Linked DNA regions of Homo sapiens. The protein of the gene in region 2 purifies or fractionates together with the protein of the main gene of each other region. This does not show direct contact. Each region holds a gene or a part of one and is shown on either strand. Other genes may lie near its edges.

What was found.
Region 1: the proteins of MTMR8 (region 2) and TXNDC5 purify together in Homo sapiens (affinity purification with mass spectrometry, with the first as the bait; one large-scale study listed by BioGRID). This does not show direct contact.
Region 3: the proteins of MTMR8 (region 2) and SOAT1 purify together in Homo sapiens (affinity purification with mass spectrometry, with the first as the bait; one large-scale study listed by BioGRID). This does not show direct contact.

Annotation. Positions count from the first base shown.
Region 1 is NC_000006.12:7,890,276-7,893,930, forward strand, and holds part of TXNDC5 (thioredoxin domain-containing protein 5 isoform 1 precursor), read right to left. Parts: intron 1,462-3,655; coding exon 1,346-1,461; intron 1-1,345. UniProt on the Homo sapiens protein: Protein disulfide isomerase of the endoplasmic reticulum lumen involved in the formation of disulfide bonds in proteins. Can reduce insulin disulfide bonds.
Region 2 is NC_000023.11:64,353,870-64,357,524, forward strand, and holds part of MTMR8 (phosphatidylinositol-3,5-bisphosphate 3-phosphatase MTMR8), read right to left. Parts: intron 2,470-3,655; coding exon 2,307-2,469; intron 1,066-2,306; coding exon 908-1,065; intron 1-907. UniProt on the Homo sapiens protein: Lipid phosphatase that specifically dephosphorylates the D-3 position of phosphatidylinositol 3-phosphate and phosphatidylinositol 3,5-bisphosphate, generating phosphatidylinositol and phosphatidylinositol 5-phosphate.
Region 3 is NC_000001.11:179,349,275-179,352,929, reverse strand, and holds part of SOAT1 (sterol O-acyltransferase 1), read right to left. Parts: intron 2,635-3,655; coding exon 2,499-2,634; intron 1,614-2,498; coding exon 1,468-1,613; intron 1-1,467.

The DNA.
Region 1 (3,655 bases), on a different chromosome or scaffold from region 2:
GTTGTTATTCACTATGTCAGCAAACGGGGGTAAAAATACTATTTCAACACCTAAGACCCGTCAGAGAGCAGCTAAGGTGCGGAACTGAAGTACAAGAGGCCTCAGCCCAAGGTCGGGAGAGGACAAGCATTTTTAAGGGTCCAGTGTAACCCAGCCACATGTGCCAGGGATGAAGGGCTTCAGCGTGGTCACCTGGGCTTGTGTCTGCTCACGCCTAGGTCTGCTAGGATCCTCTATGGATATAAACCTAAAAGAATCTCCCATAAAATTTCATACAATAATTAAGTAAGGATACAAGGAATGGGGTAAGACAGTAGACAAGATTATTTTATAATTACTTCCCCGAAATGTTCAATAAATATAAACTGATAATAACATGTATAATTAGTATATATTATCGTAAGCGTTTAAGAGGCAACAGTGAAATATCCATTTAACTGACAACAAAAGTGATTACAATTTACCAAGCATCTGCCCCATGCTAAGCATCACACTAAGCAGTGTACTTTCATCTGCCCAGACACCACACAGTAGATCTTAGCTCAGTTTTGCAAAGGGGGAGACCGAGGCGTGGAGAGGTTTTTCCCAAGGTCAGCCAGCCAGGTCTACCCAACCCCCAAGTTTATGCTTTTGACCATCTCACCATCCCAAGTAGATCATCCTGTTAACCATCATTCAGTCCTAGACACGCAGCATTACTTTTGGATACAAATCAGCCCCATGGCAAGGTAGAAAAATGAGATTTTTAAGAAAGGAAATCTATGCATGGTGTCTGGTGGGTGCTGGAAAGTGTAGAAGAATAAAAGTGATGTCCCTGGAGCTACACTGGATATTTCCAGAAAATCCAGTTACACAGAAGTTGTCAGACACCACTCTTGGCTTCTCTGTATAAAGTAGGAAATGCTGGAAAGAATCCCAGGCACAGTGCAAACTGAGGGAGGGTCTTCTGCGTGCTTGGGGGAGCACAGAGCCAGGGTCCTTTTAGAGAGAGCTCTTGGGTGAGGTCGAACGTGGACGGTCTCCAAGTTCGTCCAGTGAACATTCTACAAGGCTCTACCCCATCTCTTTGCAGAACGGGCTCTGGGGCTGCCAATTCAGATTTGGCCATCTCTTCAAAATAAACAAAGCAGCCGAGGCCATAATTTATCTCTAGGCTGTGGAAAAGCCAGCAAAACTCAAAATCAGACTGCCATCTGTGAAGGTGAAATGAATTATCAAGTGGCACACTAAATGGAATTAATAAATCAAGTTTGCGACTTTGCACACGGAATGAATAATGGGCCACTCTGCTAATTAATCCAGCCCAAAGCAGTCCATTTCCAGTTTAATAAGGGCTTTCACTCACCTTGCCAATCTTGACAGTTTCGGAATGTTCAAGGCCCAGAGCCAGCTGCTCCCAGGTTGGAGCCAGGGCTTTGCAGTGACCACACCACGGAGCGAAGAACTTGATAAAGTGGTCGCCTGGAGTGGAGAGCCAAGGCAGAGACGGGGGAAAGAGGAACTGTAATTTATGTCAGACCTCACTAGAGAGTTAATTGAAGAATCAGATCTTTGTCCTGCTTAGCAAATCTTAGTTCGGCATGAGCACTTTAATTGGTACAAAGGGACTCCATCAAATGTGTTTCTGTTCATGACTTCATAACAATACTCAAAACCAAATTTGTCATCTTTGATGGACAATCAGCAATCAACTCATTATTTGGAAAACTGTAATAAAAGGAAAGAATCAGGCATTTCTCCCACCTCTCCTATATGCACTGTACCGCTGAATAACCAGGTGATAAATGAGGGTGAGTTTCTCTTGGTTAAAAAATGAAGGGACGCTTGAATGAGCCTCGGCACTTGGCAGCCCTAAGGAATGGACGGACCCAGGCTCTGCCTGTCATGGTCGACCACATCCCAAAGAGAGACAACTGGACGTTCTGTGCCCCCACCAGCTATGAGGTCTTCTTGTGCCCCCAAAAAACATCACACTGAAACTGATTTTGTCCCCAGACCCAACTACCAATTTCCAGGAAACAGAGAAATCAGGGAAACATGTAGACCACACTACGGGGACACAATTAGCAAAGTCTGGACCACGGGGAGCTCTACAGGTCAAACCACCTATGTCTTCAGCAAGAAAGATAAAGAGATGTCTGGAGAACATGCAGGTTAAAAGAGCCTTAAAAGATATATAAACACATACACATATAGAACTATAGTGCTCAGGAATGTGCACTTCAGTGCACATAAAGGAGTTGATATGGTTTGGCTGTGTCCCCACCCAAATCTCATCTTGAATTCCCACATGTCGTGGGAGGGACCAGGTAGGAGGTAACTGAGTCACGGGGACAGGTCTTTCCCATGCTGGTCTCGTGATAGTGAATAAGTCTCATGAGATCTGATGGTTTTAAAAACGGGAGTTTCCCTACACAAGCTCTTTTTGCCTGCTGATATCCATATAAGATGTGACTTGCTCCTCCTTGCCTTCCACCATGATTGTGAGGCTTCGCCAGCCACGTGGAACTGTGAGTTCTCCATTAAACCTCTTTCCTTTGTAAATTGCCCAGTCTCGGGTGTGTATTCATCAGCAGTGAAAACGGACTAATACAAGTGGTTTCCACAAATGTCAGGCAAGTGCCTTCTTGGAGAAGGGAGGGCGGGCTGTGCCCTGCATGGGACACGGGAAGCTGGCAGTTTTATTTCTTGAACTGGACAGTAGTTACAGTGTGACCACGCTATAAAAATTCATTAAGCCCTACATTTGTTTTCTCGATCTGTATTATATTTTATCATAAAAAAAAGTTTAAAAAATGAAACATCACCCCCTTGGCTACGGGGAAAAAAACAAACAAACCCTCACAGCATCATTATTTGGACACAGAAGGTGTTTAGCTGTTCTACCCTGACATTGGGCTGATACCAAACTGAAAGCAGGCTGTGGCCGGGGAGAGAACTAACCAGTGGCATGTGGCCTGGCGTCTGAGCAGGACTCTGCCACACTAAGGCTCACAGCTACTGTCTCATCAGCACAGCAACAATGCACTTGAAGAAAATGGTGAAAAACTTCCTTTAAAAGTTAACAACTTCCATTAAAAAATGTGCAAAGCTGAAACCATGTGCAGGTGCACAGTAGATCCTGCACTGTAAGGTGGAGACAGGCTCTCTGGGAACCTAATCAGAGTACTGATGGGAAGCCAGCAAGGGCAGGAAGCCACCATGGTACCTACACGACACAGCTGTGTGGCAGTGACCCACTTAGGGAGGCGCTGGCTAGGCCTGCCGGAGTCGGTCTGTCCTGCCGGAGTCGGTCCGTAACAGGTGATTTGGGAAACACACCCTGCTCAGAGCCCAAGACAATCCCAGCTGAAAATGCATTCCCGTAGCGGAAAGCATGCTAGAGTTCTGCCGTCAGGGCGCTGGTATGGATGAAATAACTTTTAGCAAAAGTGGGAAAAGGCTGAAGGCCTCACGATAAGTTACTGTGGACAGTAAGTGTGGTGGGGGAGGGGCTCTGACTCCCAGCAGGCACAAGTCACAAGGCCAGAGGCAATCCAAGCCATTTCTCACGTTTCCAACCCAGTCTTCTAAGGGGATTTCTCTCCATGGTAGCATTTGGTAATGGGAGCCGGCCAGGAAGCCAAAATTGCTTTCAAGTCATTCGGTGTTGGGC
Region 2 (3,655 bases):
TGAGCTATGGTCATGCCACTACACTCTACCTTGGGCAACAGAGTGAGGCCTTGTCTCAAAAAGAAAGAAAAGAAAACTGTGGTACATATGCACAATAGAATATAACTCAGTCACAAAAAAATGTAATCCTGTCATTTGCAACAACATGGATGGAACTGGGGGACATTATATTAAGTGAAATGAACAAAGCATAGAAAGACAAATATTGCATAATCTCATTCACATGTTGTAGGAGCAAAAAAAAAAAAAAAATGAACTCATGGAGACAGAGAGTAGAATGATGGTTACCAAAGGTTGGTAAGGGTAGTGGAGTGGGGGGGATAAAAAGAGGATCCTCAACGGGTACAAAAATACAGTTAGATAGAAGGAATAAGATCTAGTATTCAGTAGCAAAACAGGACGACTACAGATAACAATAATAAAATAACTGAAAATGGAATTGGAATGTTCCTAACACAAATAAATGATAAATACTTGTGGTGATGGATACCCCAATTACCCTGATCTGATCATTACATATTGTATGCCTGTATAAAAATATCACATGTACCCTATAAATATGTACAACTATTATATATCCATAATAATTAAAAATAAAAAATGTTAAAATAAATTAGCCTTCACAAGGCTACTCTGCAAAGCATCAGGTTGTTTCTGGCTTCCTTAGGCTGATTTTCATGCCCTGCACCTATGCTCCCATAACACCCTATGCTTTAGGCCATGAGATCTCTTACTCAGTGCCTATTGCACTGTAGGTACTCAATAAATGTCTGTTGAATGGCTGAATGTTGAATGGAAAGGAGAGAGAGATTATGAGTCATTTCTCTCTTTTTTCAAAATCTTGTTTCCTGATATTCTACCATCTTAATTAAATGCACCAAAAGGCAAACAACAAGGACAAAATTACCTCATAGTTTCTGTTGGCATCTGTTATGGTCCAGTTTCTGTTGGGTATTCCCATACGCCCAAAGTCTGATATTGGGTCAATCAGTTTCCATCCACTTTCCCTCATCTCTTTTGAGGATTTGGGATTATAAGAAAAAGCATAAAGATCTTCAGGTAATGCTGGAGAAGAGAGATAGGCATGGAAAACAAAATGATGAATGAAACCTAAAAATCATCAAACAATGCAAATAAAGGCTAGATTTCCTTTTCCTAAGGGAATGTTTGTCAAACAGCCCCAGAAAAGGACTGTGGTGTGTGCAAGTTTGCCTTTATGTAAGGAATAAAAACTGGAATATTGTTTGGGTTCTTTGAAAAAATGTTTTAATTTTTTGTGTTATCAATACGAAGTGGGATCTTTCTGCCTGGCTTCCTATAAAAAAAGAATGCTGGATAATTGACTGAACTGAGGCTTCAGGGTTTCACATGTTAAGAAAAGAGTCCTTACCAAAAGTTTTTAACTGGGCTCCCATGTCCTAATAGTACTGCTTATTGTAACATGTTGCACATCTTTAACAATGTTTTTGCATTGTACTTGTCAGACCAACAGCAACTTCTGACTTATAAATGGCCCCTTCCTCTCTTTTCTCTGTCAGTCCTGCTTCCTCCCTTCACGAGATACAGCATCCAATCAAATAACTCATTTGACCAATTTATATGGCAACAACTTCTCCAGAGATTAATGGAGCCTATCAGAGACTTGTAAAATGCTAGGCCATCCAGCAGGTAACTTTATCAATAAAAATCAGCAAATATTGAGGAATTACTCTGAGGGAAAAGGGGAAAAATGGGAGAGAAAATGTAAGAGCATGATTAAAATCAAAGACTAAAATCAGAGGAAGCTGGTTAATTGCCTAGGGGTGGGGGCTGGGGAATGAAAGGGTGATGCTGGAGGAAGCATTAAGTCCTACATTAATGAGGACTTTGATGAACTGCCTTAGTCTTCTAGTTGGAATTAAAAGTAGGGGTGGAAATCGTGGGCCAAACAAAAAGTCTGCAGGACAGCAGGAAACAAATTTTCTTCCAAAGCAGTCTTCCTTCCTGAACTGAGAAAACATTCACAAGTTGATACTTTAAAGGAGGGAAGGAGAGAGAAGAAAATATCTATTAAACATCTACTATATACTAATACATGAAGGTATTCAAGGCTCAAAACAATCCCCTTGAAGAGCTTTTACTCTCCTTACTTTTACAGGTAAAGAAAATGAGTTCAGAGGTTATATAACTTGCCCAAATATAATGGAGCTAATAAGTGGTACAGCCCAGATCCAAACCCTCCTCTGACTCCATAGCCCTGATCTTTCCATTATGCCATTTTGGAAAAATATTAAAATGGTTTTAGATAAAAATACTATCATAACTACCTGGCTGAGAAAGCTTGAGCAGTGAAATATAAACCTCATGGCACACAAGGTCAGAATCTAAAACAAAGTGGGCCACCCGGAAATTCTTGCAGCGGAGGGTCAGGGGACAACCCAGGCTAGTGATGGGTAACTTCTCCACAGTGGCAATGTGATGGAGTGCAATCTGAAAAACATAAAAGAACCAGCGTAAACATACAGATGTGCAATATCTCTATCACTATCAGTATTCCTGACTCTCCGTAATGGTAACAGCATGACCAGATCTGTAGGCTACATCTACAGCCTACAACCATTCTTTGTAAGACACAACTGGGGTTCTCTCAAATAGAACTAAAGCATAATAGTGGTAAAGCAACAAGAAGCAGACTGCAGTGTTAGAAAACTTCTCTCTCCTTAAGGATACGAGATTACCAAGTTTGTGGGACAATTTTGGTAGATCAGCTCAGAATAGATGACTTTTAGCATGCTGTGATAGAGTTCACAATCAGAATAATTGTTACAGAGGAAAACAGGAATTTTTTTTCTTATATCAAATTACTAATTAAGATAATTATTAATAGCAGGTATTGTGCCTTATCATAAACAAAGTAGTCCATGACCATTAGCTATTTAAGAAGAGCCATTTGACGTGTAATCATCCTATTTCAGGAATGAAAAAAAAACAAAGCTCTGAGAAGTGAATTCCTCATCAGATATCATATAGCCAAGAAGTGGCACAAACAGAATTTGAACCATAGCAGTCTAAACTTAAGTCCAGGATTAAGTTCTGGAATAAGGATTTAACTAGAAATGTTAGGGAGGAACTATTCCTCTACATTTTAAACTCTAGTGACAGTAAAGCAAAGAATGTAGGATGATTACTTCTGTTCATGCTGATGCCAGCAAAAAAAGAAATGCATGGAAAGGGAACTGATGAAACAAAATGTGTCCAAATAATATAATTCTCTCTTAATTGATTCAAAAAGCCATATAATCATGGTTTTGCATTTTGATCTTTGATGTTCTCCTCCTATCCCTGTCTTATGTTTCTGCAACTATGGAGCCTGGATGTGCTCTTTCCATTCTCTAGACTCCCTGTCCTGTGCCTGGAATGGTCTTCCAATCAATAGTGCCTTTTCTGCTCTCCCATCACCTCAATGCCCCAGTCCCTAATTTCTTTGGAAAAGTCATCTCTTCAATGAAGTCTTTCAATCATATCCACCATCTAAGAATGGAGCAAGTGTGGAAATGATTCAGATATTCCTAGGATAAATTTTCTATTTTTTTTAAGGCAGGGTCTCGCTCTGTTGCCTAGGCTAGAGTGCAGTGGCTTAATCATGACTCACTGCAGCCTCAACCTCCTGGGTTCA
Region 3 (3,655 bases), on a different chromosome or scaffold from region 2:
CAAACTGGATTTTGATAGGAGAATAAAATCTGACATGTGGAATCCAGGTGACCAGGGACAGTCAAGAGCAATTACTTCAGATGAACAAAGGAGATTAATATGAAATAAAGAGGGAGAGTTGAGGCAGCCTAACAGACATAGGGTACACAGAAAGAGGGGAAGCTTTGGAGAGGAAACTGATTAATTTCATTATGGACATCTTCAGTTACAGATGCCTATGAGAAATACCCAGGAAATAAATCAAGAAGGTATCCCCTCCAAACCTGGAAGGTTGTAGGGATTGAATGAATTATTAGTAGGGCCACCAAATTTAGCAAATACAAGTACAGGATGCCGAGATGAACTTGAGACAAATAGCTCTATCTGCCATATTTTTTGTAATTTACTGAAAAAAGCAGAATATAGGACATTTGGGGTGTTCTAAGAAACCCAATACAGGAGGCAGGACAAAAATGTTAAATATAGGACACGCCCTATATGCACAAAAAGCCTGGCAATCCTACTTCTTAGGGTGTTTCCATCATGAAATTCTATCCATAACTATAAGCAGTACTTTCAGCTAGTGCTAGTAGATCTAATTAACCAGATCACATCAATTAAATTAACCAGAGTGTTTGCTGGGAAATTCCTATGTCCTATACTGTGTTACTTGAAAATAAAATTCTTAAAAAAAAAAAAAGCCATCCTCCTAAAATCTGTACCCATGTATAGCTAAAAACTAAAGTCCTAAGAATAAATGAAACCTGAATTACCAAAAACAAAAATAGAATCAAGAGAAATGGAAGGATCTCAGTGTTGCCCAATATTTTTACAAGAGTTTATTTAGAAGAAAGAGGTTTAAAAAAAAAAAAAGGTATGTTTTAGGTGGTGGTAGTAGGGACATACATGGCATTAGGAAAACCCTGGAGAATACTTAGAAGGGGCTGGCTGAGCACGGTGGCTCCAGCACTCTGGGAGGCCGAGGTGGGCGGATCATGAGGTCAGGAGATCAAGACCATCCTGGCTAACATGGTGAAACCCCATCTCTACTAAAAATACAAAAATTTAGCGGGCATGGTGGCATGCTCCTGCAATCCCAGCTACTCGGGAGGCTGAGGAAGGAGAATCACTTGAATCCGGGAGGCAGAGGTTGCAGTGAGCTGAGATTGCACCACTGCACTCCAGCCTGGGCGACAGAGTGAGACTCTGTCTCAAAAAAAAAAAAAAAATTAGAAGGGGCTGAAGAAAAGGCAGTAAAAGAAGAAAACCAAAAGCTAGGAGAGTTAAATGTGAAGAAAACTAAACAAAAGGAAAAACTTCAAGTACAATAAGATCAGATGATAAACTAATGCTTTTACTCCTCATTTCCCTCTCTTTAACACTAATTCATCATAATCTCCACTACTGTGCTCCTCAACATTGCCCACCAACTCTCACAAACAGAGAATAAACAGGTTCTTTTGCACTCCAACCAGGTTGGTGACTCACATTTTTCAGAGGACAGTGCTGACGTGCATACCATTCTTGAGAATAAAAGCAGAGTAAGACTCCATTGCCCAAGAAAAGAGAAGTCCACATCAGAACATTCCAAATCGGCTTTTTCCGACTATCATTGACAATGAAGTTGAAAGCCACTAAAAATAGGAAGGCAACAAAGAAATATACAGTTATCAGAGGTCAGAAGTTCGAGACCAGCCTGGCCAACATGGTGAAACCCCATCTCTATTAAAAATACAAAAATTAGCCAGGCGTGGTGGTGTGTGCCTGTAATCCCAGCCACTCGGGAGGCTGAGGCAGGAGAATCACTTGAAGCAGGGAGGCAGAGGTTGCAGTGAGCTGAGATCATACCACTGCTCTCCAGCCTGGGTCACAGGAGTGAAACTCTGTCTCAAAAAAAAAAAAAAAAAAAAAAAAAAAAAAAAAAAAAAAGAAAGAAATATACAGGTATCAAAACATAATTTATCAGAAGATGAGGGACCTCAGGTATCTGCTGTTATTTAATAATCACAGTGAGCAACAACTGTTTATATATTTTTTTATTCTGGTCACTGTTTCTATAAAGAAAAATAAAGCTTCAGTGTTAAAATCAGTAACTTACAAGAAATCAGTGTTTTCAGAACATGTGTATATATATTTCATGGAATTAGAATATTCATATTCCAACTTTTCCCTCTCTACTCACTCAAAAACTTGTCAGTTTTCTAGGGGGTGCATACCGACAATGTTTACGAATGGGAAAGCTGTTTATATAGATAACTTTTATGACCTATCAAATCAGTGTTATCAATGGTCTTCATGAGGTTACCTAGTTCATTTCCCTACTTCAAAGTGTAAATATCTTGAGACAGAGCTGTGTATAATTATTCAAAGTCAATATTCTGACCATCTGATAAAGAAGTACTACCTTAAAATGTTACTACTACTATCTAGTTCTCCTACATTGATTTTATAGTTTCCTTTCTATCTGGTTTTCTTTTTTAGCATAGTACCCAGTACTCACAGCATACCAAGATACTTACTTCCAAAGAACATGAAGAGCACGAAGAGCACGGGATAGAAAAAGCTCAAGCAAACAGCCAAGGCATATTCGTGTACTACAGCAGATACAGCAAAGACAGCTAACATGGCAGCAGATTTGAATCTCTTGGAGAAAAACTAAAGAAAAAGGAAAACACTACAAAGTAATTTTTAAAAATTTAAAGCAAGCATGGATTATATAGGATGTAAAATTATATGCCAAAGGCACCTATTGTATTTGTACTTAATTTTCTAAGTCTACTCCTTGGATTAATCCAAGTCTATTAAAATAACTACAAATCATATACACTTACAAACTCTTATTATTGTTCAAATATCTGAGTCTATTTTCAAAAATATCAATAACTTATGTTTGTAAGTTATTACAACTGACAAAACATAGTTTTCCTATATAAATGAAACATATTGAATTTCAGTCTTTAGAGTAACACTGTATGGTAGATGGGGCAACTGTCCTCTCCATTTTTACACATAACAAAACTAAGATTTCAGAAGGAGAAAAGGGACTTGCCTTATCCGTATGTGAAACTACACTTGAATGACAGAATTAGCACTCAAATATTAATACAATGCTATTTCCACCATAAGATGCTGTCACTAAGCCAAATGGTGCCCTCACTTAATAAAAACTGTAATCTAGATACCTGTTTATCAACCAGGAGATTCAAGATTACATCTCATCAGTCTAAGTATATTCTGCTCTAAAGAATGTCTCAAAGCCAGGTGTCACTGATTGGAGAGATACAAAATCCACACAAAAGTGTTTCTCACAGAAAAGTGTTTCTCACCCGGGCACGGTGGCTCATGCTTGTAATCCCAGCACTTTGGGAGGCTGAGGCGGGCGGATCACCTAAGGTCGGGAGTTCAAGATGAGCCTGACCAACATGGAGAAACACCATCTCTACTAAAAATAGAAAATTAGCTGGGCGTGGTGGTGCATGCCTGTAATCCCAGCTACTTGGGAGGCTGAGGCAGGAGAATCGCTTGAACCCGGGAGGAGGAGGTTGCAGTGAGCCGACAACATGCCACTGCACTCCAGCCTGGGCAACAAGAGCGAAACTCTCTCAAAAAAAAAAAAAAAAAGTGTTTCTCTACCTTTAACCATGAAAAACGAATGAAAAAGACCAAAGGGAGATTA